2 separate regions of the Homo sapiens genome follow, and region 1 is linked to region 2. The links come from fine-mapping of genetic effects on gene expression. A gene starts in region 2. The other region holds a variant in brackets. All regions are shown on one strand. Distances are from middle to middle. Region 1 holds the start of ASNSD1 (asparagine synthetase domain containing 1). Region 2 holds the start of SLC40A1 (solute carrier family 40 member 1).

Region 1 (8,608 bases), 81 kb before region 2:
CTTAGACCTGTTTAAAATTCTAAAGCACATGTTAATAACTATTGCTTTCTAAAACATTTATAATATATATATATATATATATATATATATATATATATATATATATATATACACATATATATATAACTGTTGACTCATCTTCGGAAGCCTAATTTGAAGAAAATCAAACTGCTGCATTAATCTTTAGATATATATTTTAACACTCAGATGAGTATAATTTAGGCACCCCCCAAAAACCCCAAAAAAGAAAAAACTTACTCTTGCTCTCAGACAGCATTTCTGTTCGGTCTGCAAGAAAGAATATATTGCTGTTCTGTTGTTGCCTATATACTTTCTGGAAAACATAATTTAGGCTAATATCAAATTTTGATCTAAAAAGTAGATATTAAAATCCTTAAACCCTATTATCACTAATTCTTGAAAATCTATTCAGTACAATACTTTAGCAAATACAGACAAGCAAAAAGACAAATAAAAGTCACCCACTGCCCAACTACCAGAAATTGCTACTACTGAAATGAAACTATTTTCTCTCCATTTTAACAAAAAAGGTTCTTACTGTACCTGCAGATTTATGCTTTTATCAATGAGCAATATATTGAGAATACTTTTTCTTATCAGTAAGTGTTCTTTTACAAGAACACCAAAATGCCAAAGCAAGCTATGGTGACCAAATTATACCTACTGCTATATAGATATAATATATTACAGTTTATTTGCTCAGCTTCAAATACTAGACATTTAAGGTGTTACCATCTCTTTGCTATTGTAAATCAAGGTTGTGATGATTATCTTTGTAACTAAATCTTTGTGCACTACCATGATTCTCTCCTAAGTATCAACTACTATAAATGGAACTGCTGGGTCAAAGTGTTATAGTTTTGAATTGTTGAGACTTTTTGCCAATTTGCCCTCTAGAGAAAGTCTGTATTAATTCTGCCTCAACTTCTTTTTTTTTTTTTTGAGAAGGAGTCCTGCTCTGTAGCCTAGGCTGGAGTGCAGTGGTGTGCTCAGCTCACTGCAACCTCTGCCTCCCAGGTTCAAGCGATTCTTGTGCCTCGGCCTCCTGAGTAGCTGGGATTACAGGCACACGCCTGGCTAATTTTTGTATGTGCCTCAACTTCTAATATTCCATAAGTGACAATATCAGAAATATCTAACCAGCCAGTTATTACATAATCTTTACAAAGCTTTTAAGAGCTCAAACTCATTTCTTCCTGAATGTTAAAATGCAATTTGACACTATAACCATACACAAAGCAGTAGCTTACTTGTTTGTAACATATTAATGGAAATGGCATTAAATAACCATGTTACACATTTAGGAAAATCTATGTAAAAATTTTTTGGAGGGAGGGGAAGCAATGTATCCTTTTTTGTTCAATAATTATCCACATTCATTTAAAAGAAAAGTTTCTTCTCATCTCAATATAAAGTTCGTTTATATCAAAAGAAAACATCAAATTCAGGTATAAAACATCATTAGTGATTATAGCTCCAAGATACCAAAATACAACTAGTATCATTTGTTGCAAAGGCAATGTGAATGGCATATGATAGAAAAAAGACATCTTCAGCTATGAGATCTATCCATTTAAAAAAAGAATCTAGACACTTGCAATTTTAAAAGATGCTGAAATACTATACATTTTATTAAAGTATGATTAAATCTTATATATACTTCTTATAACTTTAATATATAGTTAACATAAATAAACCTCCCACATATTATTCAGAATTCCTATAATAACTCACCCTATTCTTCTTAAGGTTAGAAAGTTCATCCACCACAATTTTTTGTTCTTTAATCTATTGAAATAAAGAAAAACTCCTTAAGTCAGATGTTTTCAAAGTATGCTCAATGAAAATCCCTTAAGGGGTTGTTTTAAAATTAGAGATGGGATAAGGGGCTATGATGTACTGGTTTTCCAAACGGGCAGTTTGTGAATATACAGATCATTTTCAACAGGAGTCTCTGTGTGGGGGTACAGTTCAGGAAAAGCTGGAGGAGAAAAAACAGTGATTAGACTTGCAAAATGTTAGGTAACCCATTAAGACCAGACAGGGATTTTCGTGTTCATAACCAGCAATCATGCCAAGGACTACAGTTACTAAACAAGGTTTATACCTTTTGTTAAAAATATATGATATACACCAGGCCGGGTGCGGTGGCTCATGCCTGTAATCCCAGCACTTCGGGAGGCCAAGGCGGGCGGATCACCTGAAGTCGGGAGTTCGAGACCAGCCTGACCAACATGCAGACACCCCATCTCTACTAAAAATACAAAATTAGCCAAGCGTAGTGGCACATGCCTGTAATCCCAGCTATTCGGGAGGCTGAGGCAGGAGAACTGCTTGAACCCGGGAGGCGGAGGCTGCAGTGAGCCAAGATTGCACCACTGCACTCTAGCCTGGGCAACAAGAGTGAAACTCCGTCTCAAAAAAATAAATAAATAAATAATTTAAAAAATATATATATATGATATACACCAAAAGGAATTAAGTTGTGATTTAGATTGAAAATTAAGTTGTGATTTAGATTTAAAAAAAAGCAAATTGAATGAGGGGTGGGTTACTTTTTTCAATATTTTCATGATTTTATGTACTAAGTGCTGCAGTCAAACATTCAAATCAAGCAATGCCCTATTTGGGGACAGTAAGACCTATCATGTTCCATCTTGGTATTTTTCCCTCTTTTTATCTCAATGACTAGCATAGAGCTGGCACTGTTGAACTGGGCTTTTTTTTTTTTTTTTTTTTTGAAACAGGGTCTTGCTCTGTTACCCAGGCTGGAGTGCAGTGGTGCGATCACGGCTCACTGCAGCTTTGATCTTCCCGGGCTCAGGCGATTCTCACACCTTAGCCTCCGAGTAGCTGGGACTACAGGCCTGGGCCACCATGCTGGCCTGGGCTTCATTTATTTGTAGGGGAGGGCTCAACTAAGTGAAAACTAAGTTTCTTTTTAACTCTATTTATTTTGTGAACATGACTGATTACATAGTATCACAAGAGCCTCTAAAAGCAGCTTTTATCATATTTGTGCTACCTCACACACACCTCAGGGATCTGTAACCACCAGTATGCGTAAGTGGCTTGCTATGGTGGTAATCAGAATGGGCTGTGTGTCTTTTGAAAATTCACCCCCAATCCCCATGAATGTGCACCTTTCTGTCTCCCCCGTTGGCAGAGCTGTAGTAATGAGGTTGAATTCCAAGGCCAAATTTGTAAACATTCTTTGAGACTTAACATTTATACAGGGCTTTCCCATTTTAGGAATGACAGGTGTACATTTCACTTTACTTCAAAGAAGGTAACTGATACAGAAAGATTAAAGAGACTTGCCCAAGATGTCATTGTAAGTTTGGGACAGAACCAAAGTAGAATCTAGGACATGTAATACCTGAAGGGCTATAACCCTCGCCACCCCCATTTATCTTTAAAGGTTGTTTGTTTATGGCAGTTAAGGCTTATATTATATTGGCTTCCTCTCTCCCCCAGTTTGGTATGAGTGACAACCCAATGCGTGTTTTAGGACCATTGCTCTGGTTAACGGAGAAGCAGCAGCTAACAGGTGGATGAGGAGAGACCGCTTAGGAAGGCCTTGCCGGGGGCAGGGGTCCCGATAGCAGATGACGGTGGCTTATTTGGGGTGGTAAGAGTGTTCACGGTGATAAAGGGACATATTTGAAATGAGCTTCAAAGGTAGAACTGATAGGCTTCCATGATGGGGGTCAAGGATGGACCCCGGGTTGCTGGCATGGTTAACTGGATGGAGAATATCTTTGATGGAACAGATTTGGGGTGGGCGGTATTTCCAAAAGTTTAAAAAGACTAGGGAGGAAAACACCCAACCAAAACTCCGCCCCACTGTCACCTGGGTCCAGTCTCGGGACAAATTTCAAGATCTCCCTTTTCGCAACTGTTTTCAGAAAATAAAAGGACTAACTGTGGCTGTCAAGTGCTATGAATAAAAAGAGCAAAGTAGCAGGGCAAAGCCGAGGCCCAGGCAGGCCCCACGCTGCCCGCTGCGGACCACCTTCAGGGTCCAGTGGCGCCCGGTCCCGAGTCCAGGAGCCTTTTCGTCGCGTCTCACACTCACCTTGCTGCTTAGATCCTCCTTGTGTGGGGTCGAATTGTCGGTGGGGATCAGCACAGAGCTGTCCTCTGGTCGCGTCCCTCGGCTGGGCATTTCCACCGAGCGCAAGACACGCGGGATGGCTCAGCCCTGAAGGAGCCTACGGCATTAGCCACAGCGCATGCGCGCTTCCAGCCGCGCTCACCCTTTCTTTTCCCGCGAGTCTTACCAATAGCGTCTGCGCGCTCACTTGAACGCATGCGCAGGCCGGGTCTGGCCTGGGGAGGAGTTTCGCGCCTGCGCATGGCTGCTTAGGGAGCGAGTAAA[CAG/G]TCTGGTTGCAAAATCTGAGGTTCCTGTACTGGCCTCTTGTGGTTGAGATGCAGAAACGCTCAGGTGGTTTCTTCATGACCTCTTATCTAGTATACTACGAGTTCTGTGCGCCCTCCAGTGGTAAATATGAAGAATAGTCGTGCAATAGAAACAGCGCTTAATATGATATTTATTATCTAGGGAAAGATGAAGCTAAGGAACAGATTTAAGAGATACCGTGTTGGCAAAAGAACTGTACAGACTTGGTAAAGTTTTGGTTAACTCGTGGTTAGGGTTGCCGGATAAAATACAGTATGAACTTCAGATGAATTAATAGTTTTTTAGTGCATCTATGTCCCGTGCAATATTTGCAATATCTCATTTCTGTGGAAAAAATGACTAAAACTTGGAAATAGGCAAAAGAGATTTATTTACTGGATGCTCTTTCAGTGCTGCTCTGGACTTGACTTTATTATATTGACTGGGCTGTTTTACAATTCTGTAGGGGCAAAGGTTAACTTTGGTAGAGATTTTGGTTTGGTAGAGATGCAAATAATTTTTTGTTGTACCAGATACCAACACAGGTTATGATTTATTGTTCTGCAACACATTAGTCAGTTTTGTATCTAACCCTGCATTCTGTCCTAACATTTCTTTATTAACATATGCCTAGCTTCTCTAATATTCTGTATTGGTTTTAAAGTCATCGGTTCCCTCACTAACCAATGAGTTGAATAAAAGTTTGACATGTATATATTTTATGTTCACATTAGAGACATGATTTTAGGTTTTTGATAATTATACTATATTATTGGAAATCTTAAGTTTCCACAGAGATGCCCAACTGGATTTATGTGATGAATCAAACTATCTGGCGAAAGAAATGTATACATCATGGGTTGTTTAAGGCCAGGCATGTTTTTTATTTGCTCTTACAGAAAACCCAAGTGGTTATATATTTTTCCTTTATAATTGATTTTTAAAGATTGTGTTTTCATTTCTGATTTGTACATTCCTGATAAGTTATTCAGGTATAACTTATACATTACTGATACATTGATAGCAGCAATGATTGGGAGTTTGGTTTTGTGGTCTAACCATTTGGTGGTATCTGTTGGATGATGGACGTCTAGTCTCATTGGTAGAGAGGTAGATAGGTGCAGTGGCTCAAACCTGTAATCGCAACCACTCGGGGCTGAGGTGGGAGGATTACTTGAGGCCAGGGGTTCAAATAAATAAATAAGAGAGGTGACAGAGAAGCGAGTTTGTAAGTCTTTTTGTTTATTGTTTGTGAGCTCAAATTAATTAATTACTTTTGTGTCCACTGAGAGGGAAGGAGGACAGCTATTTGAGATGTGGGCTAGTAAGGTTTTGTTTGTTTGTTTTAACATAAAGGCCGCTCAAGCAGAAGAACTGGTGAATTTTTGTGGTTTTGTGTTTACTTTTGACCTGAGATTGAAGTTGTAAGACAGAAGCAATAACCTCTTTATGTGTCTGTGTGTCTGTAACTTAGAACAGGCTTTATGTCTCCCTTTGTAAATATGAAATATTTCCCTACTTCTGGAGTGTATTAATAAATCCCACTATAGTATCTCTAATTAAAGGGCCTCTGTTCTGACTAGTTTATAGAGAAAAATAAGCACTGGTATAATCCCAATATTTTTAAAAGCCCAGAATTTCCAATACTTTAAATGTGCCAGATTTTTAAGGAAAAAAGTTCTTACAAAACTGCTAGCTTAGAAACATTTTAAGAATCCAAGTTTAGGAAAAAGAGAGCTCCAAAGTGAAGTATCACTTCACTTTGTTGTTGTTGTTATTTTGAGACACAGTCTTTCTCTGTTGCCCTGGCTGGAGTGCAGTGGTGCGATCTCTGCTCACTGCAACCTCTGCCTTCTGGATTCAAGCTATTCTCCTGCCTCAGCTTCCCAAGTACCTGGGATTACAAGTGTGTGCCACCATGCCCGGCTGATTTTTGTATTTTTAGTAGAGATGGGGTTTCAGTATGTTGGCCAGGCTGGTCTCAAAGTCCTGGCTTCCAGCTATCTGCCCGCCTCAGCCTTCCAAAATGCTGGGGTTATAGGTGTGCGCTGCCAGGACTGGCTTCCACTTTGTTTAGAGGTAATAGTGAGGCTTATCTGTAAAGCTGATGAGACTGAGCATCCTAGCCTATTGGTCTTCTTTGTACCCCACCTTCTATTATAGTGTCTGGCAGAGTGGGAGCTCTGGTTAAAGTTTGAATTGGTTCTGACTCACAATCATGTCCACATCGAGTAGCCGGAAACACCCAACACCGCTGATTGGTCTACAGCTGTTCACCCCGTTTTGGGAAGTGGGCTGTTGCTTACGGCTCTGCCAGGTTCTGATGTTTTTGTTTATTCACAAGGGCTGCCCAAGACAACATAGTACTAAACAAAATAGTACTAAACAAAGTGGTGATAATAATTTTAGTATGGTGCTAAACTGTCTTAAAAGTGCTTTCACACTTTGTCTTATTTAAAAAATATTTATCTATTTGCTTCTATTTCCTCCTTCAGCTGCTCTAACTTCTGCATTGCTTGAAGTCAGCTTTGGGGTTAGCTAGTACCATGTGTCATGCCTAACTGGCTCAGGACTGCCCATCTGCAGCCCACCATACAACTGGAAACTATGTCTTCTCTTCCAGTGATTCTCAACAGAGCTAGGGGTTTCCCTAGCTGATGCTTGAAAAAATGTTTGGAGGTACTGTTGGTTGTCACAGTGATTGGATGGTTCTGTTAACTCTGATGGGTAGGACAGACTGGAAGTCATTTGAAAGGAGACAGACTCAACTACAGACTCTTCTAAGAGGCGTAGACTAGCAGACCAAAGGGAAATCTCAGCAAGTAGACAGTGCTGGTAATTGCCGGTGGGGGGAGGGGGTTGGAGAGGGGGAAGTAAGGTAGGCTGTAGGACCAAGGGGGTGAAGTCAAAGGAGAGGTAATATCACAGTCTAAATAGGTGATTTATATCAATAATTCTGCCAGAAGGTGACAGGGCCTGAGATATTGGACTGATGTTTTCCACAAGGCTCTAGGATCTGGGAAAGGAACTACTGGATCCTTACCATAAACTCTTTGCAGGGAGAACGCAGGGAGAATGCTTTGTCGCCCTAGTAACAAAGCACATCAGGCTGGTCTTGGTCTCTCAAGGGAAATGGCAGAGTTTCCAAGTACTGGTCTAGAGATTAGTAAATCCTTTTTACTTGAGATAAGGCTGGTTCTCAAGCTTTGCTTCAAAGCTGTGGAATGCGGACATCAGGCCTCCCTGACGCTTGCAGCCAACTTCACTTTGGAGCTCTTGTGCAGGGCTGAAACAGGATGTGGTGAGTGTGGTAGGGTGCAAATTTGAAGATGCACTGACTCTCAGGTCCTGCAGTAAGTGCTCTTTAAATTTTCTGCCCAGGTGCCTCACATGCCTCATCTAAGCATATTCGTCTTCTTTCCAATCCACTGCTCTCCTGCCAGTTGGATTTGAAAATTTCATTGTTGGTAGTTCTGTTTTACAATCTAGAGGTCAGTGTGGTTTGTGAATGTCACCAATGAAAGATGTTTTATATGCTGCCCATGCCTGTTGTATCTTCACATAGTCTGACAGCTATAAAGAAGGTTAATCGAAATTATCTTGGCTTCTTCTAGAACTATTCCATATGAGTGCCACTGTCCACCTCTTTCCCAAAGATTCAAATATGGATGCAAGGCAAAGAAAATATTTGATTGGTTAAAGTGGACCAGTAGCCTTATTTGGATCATTCCATTGGAAAATCCCTAGTTAGAGGTTAGTTGTTGGTTTCTGATTGGTTAAGCTAAGTTCTGTTTACCTAGAATATAACCTTTTAGCTTTTGGTTTGTTTAGGTAGGCACTCAGCTCTAGAGCTGCTTCAGTGTAATGGCCTTCCGATTTATTATTTTAATACTTCCTTTCTATGTTTTGGAAGAGTTTTTGTAGAATTAATGTTATTTCTTCTATTAATATTATATAGAATTTTCCAGTGAATTTATCTGTGCCTAAAGTTTTCTTTGTTCAATGGTTTATAAAAACTATTATTTTTCTTTTTTCTTTTTTTTATACTTTAAGTTCTGGGGTATATGTGCAGAACGTGCAGTTTTGTTACATAGGTATACATGTGCCATGGTGGTTTGCTGCACCCATCAACCCATCACCTCCATTAGGTATTTATCCTAATGTTATCCTTCCCCCATCGCCAAC
Region 2 (8,608 bases):
ATATGAGAATGTGTTAACAGGAACTCTGCTTAGATGGATGAGGTGTTCTGTGCTGTCTTCTGTGAGGGGCTTGCAATCAAATTGCTGTTGAAAAGGGCATCGAGAATACCAGCTAAAATAACTGAACACTTGGGAAATCCATCCCTGTTTATACAACCTGAGGAAGGCAAGGCTGAGCAGCATCTGGAGAACGTGAAGGGGATACTGTTGTGGTGATACCAAGCATTTGTTTTGCGCTTTAATGAATTCAGACAGAATACAGGAGAACAGACTTGACATTGTAACATGAGAGAGTTAGATTAGACAGCAAAAGTGACGATCCACGGCAAAAGTTAAGAGACTGAAATATTTATTAAATAGAATTTTATGTATTTTCTGGCTGTATATGGAGAAAACTAAACAGTTAACTTAGTTCCATGTTTTAGTTTCCAGTCAGCGTAATGGACAAGACTTCTCTTTTTTTCTTTCTACAGTCTCTTTCTATTTGATTAAGATCTCCTGAGACTACATTTGGCCTACATTTATCTCAATCAATACCATTATTGAAAAATGGCAAACTTTCCTTTTAAGAATATATATATATTTAATCAAGCTAAAATTTGCATAACATAAAATTCACCACTTGAGCCATTTTGGTGACTTTTATTATTTCACATTGTGGCAAAACCATTGCCACTATCTAGATTCAGACCATTTTCATCACCCCAAAGGGAAACTACACACCCATAAAGCAGTCACTACCTATTCTTCCCTCCTCCCAGGCTCTGAAAACAACCAATATGCTCTCTGTCTCTATGGATTTGCCTTAGGAGTATATTTCTTTTGGAATCTTCTGAATTCTGTATTTAATTTTTCCAACTAGAAACTGTAGACTACTGTGTATATGTGTGTGTGTGTGTGTGTGTGTGTGTGTGTGTGTATGAGAGAGAGGAAGCAAGAGAGCACCCCCAATGAGAGCCAGCATTCATAAGAAACTTCGCAAGGTCAAATCTATTTGAAATGTTCAAACAAAATGAAGACCTGGGAGGATATTTATCTTTCAATAGGATGTCTGTAATTTAAAGTAGATGTTGAACTTAAACTTCTCAAGAGCCATTCATTCATATTATAGAAATATAAAACCGTTCTTGAAATTTGCCTGTAACACTGAGAAAGATTTTTGAATGGAAACGTGGCTTTATAGCTCCTAAGTTAATGTAAAAAGGTTCACATCCAACAGAAGCACAGTCCTGGATTGGAGCCCTTCCTGTAATAGTTGGTGATAACCCTATTACTTTTTTTCTTCAGAGCAGTGGAATAGTGACCATTCTTTATTCTGCCTTTGTCCTGGTGAGCACATCTGATATGGCAGAGGAAACTGAGGATGCCTGGCCGGTAAGTGAAAAGACAACTTAAAAATGAAATGATAAAACCGTTTTTATTTCCCAACTATAAACACTTTAAATGAATTTTAAATAGCCATATACATTTTATTCTGGCTGGGATTTTTAAAAAGGTGGTTAACCTAGTTACAAACTTTAAAACATGTTGAAAATGAATTGGCACATGGTCTTTAGGGTATCTACTATTTTTTGTAAACTGACTTAAAACTTGCATGACTTTCTTAGTTAGATTAAATTGATGGGAATGTTGTATGTTCTGTGTTCTCAAAAACATATATATGACTTTTGGAAGAAATCTTAATTTTCAACTGGTCAAATGTTTTCTCAGAAGGAGGAAGAGCCCGAAGGGTCTTGTGATTAAAGCGGTGCTTTGTAACCTAGCATGTCAAAGCCAAAAGAATTCTGTCATTTTGCACTTTCTGAATAGTTTGAGGATTTTTATTCTATTTTCATTTTCAATTTCTTTCCATTTCATAAGCCCCAACTAACATATCTCAACTATTCTCATTAATTAGGATTTAAGATTCCCCTTCCACAGCTCACTCACTGGTTTTAATGTCATGAACCTTGCTTGTTTTCTTTCCAAAGTATCTTTCCTACTTGCTTCACTGCAGTATCCCATTTGTTCTTTATAACATTCTCTCGGTTTTGGCTTCTGGGGACTCCTTGGTGACAATGGAGAACAGAGACTCCATATCACATTTTGAGGTATATGCTGACTTAGCCACTCTTTCCACAAATACTTCTTAAACAGTGTCTACGGGAAGTAATTTTTTTTTTAACCAACCGAACTTTTAAAAAGCCACCTGGAAGTTGGGGACAGCATGACACCCCTTCTTATAATATGTAATAATTAATGTAAAGCACTTGGAGGTCCTTGTTGCTGAGACACACTCTGACAAATGTGCAAACTATCACTATCCTTTGTGCCTTGTTGAGGACCTGTCAAAAAATTCATCTCTAATAAGGGATCGCCATAAAGTGGAGGGGTTTATTTACCAGTTCACTCCTTCACTTTAGTTCACTCATCTGAGTATACTTTGGTTTATTCTCAAGGATGCATGTATAAATGACCCTATTCTCCACGGTTAGCAAACCAAAACCTCTCTAAATTGGGAGAAAGAACTTGAATGTCGTGTGAAAGAAAGGAAAAAAGAGGGCTTGAAAAGGCAAAAAGCAGTGAAAAGCAGTAGTTAAACTGTAACCCCTATCTCTACTCACCAGACCACATCCCAACCGAATCCAGCTGCACCCACCCCGTAGACCTTTGGGGCTCCTGATTGAGAGTGCAGATACAGGGCACATACTCATGCGTGGCTCCCTTCACTACTGGGTGTCAGTCTGGCCTGTGCTCAAGGTGTGGCATCTGGTTGGAGTTTCAATATGTAGGATCCACTACCAGGGTTTTCGTGAGATTAAGAAGGGTAAGGTAACCTACTGGCAAAAGGGGCTGGTATGCCCCAGGGGTTGGTTTGGCACAGCAGGATTAAAACGAAGTCAACCAAGGCTAGAGTCTGGTGTTCTTTAGTCATTCACCTCACCCTCCAGGAGGCCACCGAATGGCTTTATCTGGACAGGGACAGATCCAGGGACACAACTGGGATAACCGGTATTCCTGGTAAGCCTGTCACTGGGGCATTTGGAGGTTAGGTGGGGAAGGGACGCGCGCGTGGGGGCGGGGTGAGAGGGTACAGAGGGAGAAGGAATGATGGTGAAGGGTTTGCTGGGGCTGCAGCATCCTCATTCTGTCTCCAGGACGGATTTGGAGGCCCCAGTTTGGGGATACGGGTAGGTCTGTAACTCGCTGCGGGACTTCACCTTTGCAAGCCTCCGTTTGCTCCTCTCAAGAGGGATGGACTCTGATCTTTGCGCCCCCTTCCTGCCCTTTGATTCTGGTTCTTTGAGGGAAGCCCTGCTATGCAGTCCGGGGAAGGAAAGGCATTCTCTGCTGCAGGCGGGCCGGAATGGGACGGCCAGGAAAGCGGCCTCTGTGGCATGAATTATATTTATTTAGATACCTGTATTAAAAATTATTTTCGTTAAAAAAGGAATCCCCACCCACCAAGCTCGCGCTGGAGCTTTGCACTGCGACCGTCCGGCGGCCGCCCTTTCCCTGAACTGCGGGGTAGCCGGTGCGCAGCGCTTTCTTCCAGCACCTGACGCTTAGTTTCGCGCAGAATCTCCCTACGCCGCCCCGCCGGCTCCACGCGCCTTCCTCCTTTTCCCAGCCCCACGGCCGCCCCCCGAGGTTGCCCTCGCGGCTTCCCGGAGAGCAGGAAAACCCGGGGAGTGGAACGCGTCGAGGCGAAGGTCCCCGCAAGCCGCGCAGGGTGTCTGCGGCCGGTTGGACGCTTGCGCCCGGGGTGGGCGACTCCTCCGGGCAAGGGCGCGGGGACGGCCCGGCGCGCAAGGTTGACGGGAGCTCGTCTCGCGCCGCGGGGACGCCCGGGCGGCCCTGAAGGGGACGGGGCGGCCCCAGTCGGAGGTCGCAGGGAGCTCCGCCCCCGACTCGGTATAAGAGCTGGGCCCGGCCCACGGCGGCGGCGGCGGCGGCGGAGAGAGCTGGCTCAGGGCGTCCGCTAGGCTCGGACGACCTGCTGAGCCTCCCAAACCGCTTCCATAAGGCTTTGCCTTTCCAACTTCAGCTACAGTGTTAGCTAAGTTTGGAAAGAAGGAAAAAAGAAAATCCCTGGGCCCCTTTTCTTTTGTTCTTTGCCAAAGTCGTCGTTGTAGTCTTTTTGCCCAAGGCTGTTGTGTTTTTAGAGGTGCTATCTCCAGTTCCTTGCACTCCTGTTAACAAGCACCTCAGCGAGAGCAGCAGCAGCGATAGCAGCCGCAGAAGAGCCAGCGGGGTCGCCTAGTGTCATGACCAGGGCGGGAGATCACAACCGCCAGAGAGGATGCTGTGGTGAGTGTCGTTGACCGAAAGCATATGGTGGAAACCCAGGTGGGGCTTTGGAGACAAGCAACTCTACACGAGTTCTGGAGGAATGTGGCTCTGCTGTGAACCATAGCTTTGTAAAAAGATCCTTTGACTCATATTTGGTGGACGTTAAGGAAGAAAGGAAATTCAGGGTGTGGGAAAAGGGGTTTGCACACAGGCACGGATGGAGTAGATTGGGCAGTTTGGATTGCCTTGTGTAAAAAAGAAACAAAACAAACAAACCAACCAACCCAAAAAAGAATGCTGAAACAAGAGTTTCTTCACTGTATGTGAAATGTGAAGTTGGGCAGTTATTGACTAGGTCAATAACTGAATTTAGTGAATGGTATTAAGTGAACGAAATACATCGGTTCATAGGTAACTTGATAAAATGTACGTGGTTTGTCCTGCAAAGTAGTTTTTAATAATCATGTTCTAATGAGATCAAATGGATAAGCATTCTGCCCTCAGCTCATTAAGTGACTACCATCGCTTTTTGTCACCCCGCCTGTGTCTTTGCAGGATCCTTGGCCGACTACCTGACCTCTGCAAAATTCCTTCTCTACCTTGGTCATTCTCTCTCTACTTGGGTAAGTGAGAATGCATAGTCTTACAACACAGTTGCGCAATTTTTTATTTCCTTTCGTTCTAGCCAGTTGTATTAAGCCAACTTCCAGTTTTGTCAAGCAGTTAAAGAAATAAATCATCCAAGTACACATGCTTTAATGAAAACGTTATTTACATCGAAGATCTTTCCCCATGAGTGTTAGTTAATGCAACTTAATTATCAGATCATCGTAGTTTATGTAGATAGACAACTATCCAGACAAGATTATCAAGGAAAGGAATATTTGCCTTGTTTTTAAATTTTATGTTGCATTAGTAGCTTTGGTAAATAGACATATCTGCTACAAAAGATGGATGGATGTCTCATATACCTTCTCTTCTTCACATTTTAAAATATTTTGTTTTCTTTTTTTGTTAAAATTTAGTTCCAGCGTGCAGCACCATGAGAATACAATAGAATGGTAGAGTGACTGACTTAAGCTAATAATAACATTCTAAGATTAATTGAAACATAAATGACCCCCAGAACAAATATCTGAGTGACAAAAATTCTGGTCTTTAAAAATGTTATCTATAGTTAGATAAAGTTTGGGGCAGTGGAGGCTATCTTAAAATTAATCATCCAATGAATATCAGCAATGGATTTACAGTTTTCCCTCTGACTTTCTAGGTTGTCCTGGAAAAGACCTAGTGTTTCTGTAGATCTGGGCTCCTAAAACTCTCTCCGAAAAATAATAAACTAGAAGGGTGCTAGATATATGTTCAGTGATGATTAGAATCTTTAACATTAAACAATTATTGTTTAAAAGCAATAAATCTGGCTATATTCTGTCCATGGCTCATATGTATTTAAAAAGAATGGAAAGAATTTTGAGAGTAAATTTTTTGAATGTTATTTTCCTTTTAAATTGGAAACTTATATTGGATCATCCTTAAGACATGGATGGAAACCACTGGAAGAGGAAATCTATACCCAATACCTTTGAGAAATTGTTAAGCTACATTATTGGTTCTCTAAGAAATAGCAGTTTATAGATGACATTTTAGAAAAGCAAGCTCCTATCTTACCAGAGGCTTACACAGGGGTGACTCTGCAAATACATGTAAACAAAGTGGAATTGGTGTGAGTTTGTTTTAATTCCAACAGCTGATGATGCTAAGTAGAAACCTAGTGAAACAACCCTTAATAAATAAAAAGCAATAGTTTGTTCCCCCAGTTTAATTCAGTAAATATTAAGTATTAATAACATGTGATGGGAATAGTATCTGAAATTCTCAGCCTGTGGTCTGGCCTTGCTCTTAGAGGAAGAAGATGCCTCTCTTCCAAGTTCTGATTATGGTTTATGTGACCTTTGGTTAATAGGTTAGGAGGTCAGATTTGCCAGAAAACCAGTGGCACCGTGGTTGTTCCAGGAGGATATTTTGTCATGTTCATTAAAAGTCCCACAAGAAAGGTGACACATGCTTATCCCAACTTTACAGTAAGTCAAGCAAAGGAAGTTCTCATGAGAAAGTTGGATTAAACAAACAGCAGCAACTACAATCATATAAGGTTTAGTGGATTTTTACTCCTTTCCGCTGCAAAGGAGTGCAAAAGAGGAATGTCTCTAACACTAGGTAATTATGCTTTTTATGTTTTTTCTCTTGTGTGGCACTCTGCCTGATTTTGTTACAACAAAACATTTATGTTTCTGTATTATGTGTGTGTGTATATGTATTATATATATATGCATTTTCCGTCCCACCCTGCCAAGTCATGATTTCTTATGCACTGAACGTAGGGGCATTAGAGTAGAAGGTTGCCTCAGGTTAGTTTTGTGTGGGGTTGAATGCCTTTTATTTCTGACTTCATTTCTATCTGCCAATGGATCAATGCATTTTACTCTATATTATCAAAATACAATATAGTGTAAGAAGTGGATCCTGGCTAGGTGCAGTGGCTCATGCCTGTAATCCTAGCACTTTGGGAGGCAGGAGGATTCCTTGAGCCCAGGAGTCTGAGACCAGCCTGGGCAACATAGGGAGACTCTGTCTCTGCAAAAAAAAATTTAAAAATTAGCCAGGTGTCATGAGACACACCTGTAGTCCCAGCTACTGAGAGGCTGAGGTGGAAGAATTGCTTGAACCCAGGAGTTTGAAGCTGCAGTGAGCTGTGATCACACCACTACACTCCAGCCTGGACAACAGAATAAGACCCTGTCTCAAAAAAAAAAAAAAAAAGTGGATACTATTGTCAAGGAGCTTATAATACAATTTAGTATGGGCTTTAAAAAAGATATCTAATAACAAAAAGATGACAGTGTAAGACAGTGAAAAAGAGGGGCCAGTTGCTTATATCTGATAACATGATCTTACAAACTCTCTCCATTTAAACCCCAATATGTCTGCATTTCTCCAGCCCTCGTTTCCCAGAGGCTCACTTTGCTCATGGAGGCCTTTGTTGCCACCAGCTCCATCCTACTTTATATTTCCTCATAGCAGCACGTGCCCTGTGCTAGATTTGCTTTTGGTCTGTGCTCACTGGAATGTGAGCTGCATGAAAACCTTTTGTGCGCTGCTGAAGCTCTAGTGCTTGCAAATGTCGGGTACATAGTAGCCACTTAGTAAGTATTAAGTGGATTGAGGACCATGATCATTCATTGACAGTTATTAGGTTTGCCTTCAGCTCTCAGTCCCGTGGGGGTACATGGACACATAAATAGGTCATCCAAGTTTAGTGAGAATTGGTGGGAAGGCAAGAAATGGAAATAAGGAAGGATGGGCACTTGGTCAATATTTACATAGACTTTACCCAAATATTGGGCTTTTTGTAAACATAGAATCTGTTGCTTCTTAAAGCCTAAGCCCGTTGGAAATTGGGGTAATGTGAGCAATTTCTTTCTTTCCATCAAAGAGGTGGTATGGCATGCAAGAAAAAGCAAGATTCAAAACTTTAATAGCATTTGTCTTGATGTCTTGCTTTAGAGGACTCTAAGACAATTAAAAAATACAATAAGAGTAAGAAAAAAAGAAAGAAACAACAGTATTAGAAAAGTGTTTCTTAACCTGTATGTTAAGAAAGAGAAAACTCTCTGACAGAGGCAACCTATCATTTGGGACATGTGTGTGTTTTTGTCTTTTCCTTGGGAGCTATTCAGAGGAATGGAGATTAGAATAAAGTATCTCCCCTCTCCCTATCCCATTTTATCCTAATCAAATCTAAATTTGCTTTTCAGGTTAAAGATTAAGTAACAGCTCCACCCCCTTGCTGTTGTGACAACTCAAAATTACTCCAGGCATTGCCAAATGATCCCCGGGGAGGTGGGGTGGGGGTAGGAGAAGCAAAGTCATCTCTAGTTGAGAACTACTGGTCTACAGGAAGTTTTTTTGTAAATGATTGCTAACATGCATCAATTTAAGTTTTGAATGTATAAAATTATTATCTTGGCTTCATTAAATTTTTAAAATTATTTGACATACCAGGATAGTATTTGCTTCTAATACATGGATTTTTTCATGAAGATGTTAACAGACTTTGGGAAGAACTAGGAGTAGAAGTATTTCTGTAGGGTCAAATCTATGAGGCCTGGAATTTGGTTTCCTATAGGGATTCCCAGAGATAAGTTATGATGGAACATGGTTGTCCTCCTTAATGTTAATTTCAGAAGTCAGGGATGGAGCCTAAAATCTCATAATAAGGTCCACTGTAGATTTTTTAAGACATTAATTTGCCTAATTCACTTAAAAGTTTCTGTTA

Evidence for each region. PIP is the estimated chance that this variant, and not a neighbour inherited with it, causes the effect.
Region 1: its variant is fine-mapped to the expression of SLC40A1 in whole blood (TOPMed, PIP above 0.99).

The regions. Positions count from the first base shown.
Region 1 is chr2:189,657,102-189,665,709 of GRCh38, reverse strand. It overlaps ASNSD1 (asparagine synthetase domain containing 1), which reads right to left and starts at 4,251. Exons shown (of 6, transcript NM_019048.4): 1 at 4,100-4,251; 2 at 1,756-1,809; 3 at 259-334. ASDURF (ASNSD1 upstream open reading frame) reads right to left here and starts at 4,251. Exons shown (of 4, transcript NM_001353493.2): 1 at 4,100-4,251; 2 at 1,756-1,809; 3 at 259-334. The coding sequence starts at 4,189. RefSeq lists an enhancer at 4,004-4,193. The variant CAG/G (reference allele first, on the strand shown) is at 4,403.
Region 2 is chr2:189,576,100-189,584,707 of GRCh38, reverse strand. SLC40A1 (solute carrier family 40 member 1) reads left to right here and starts at 3,922. Exons shown (of 8, transcript NM_014585.6): 1 at 3,922-4,290; 2 at 4,828-4,895. The coding sequence starts at 4,248. RefSeq lists silencers at 3,669-3,838, 3,909-3,968.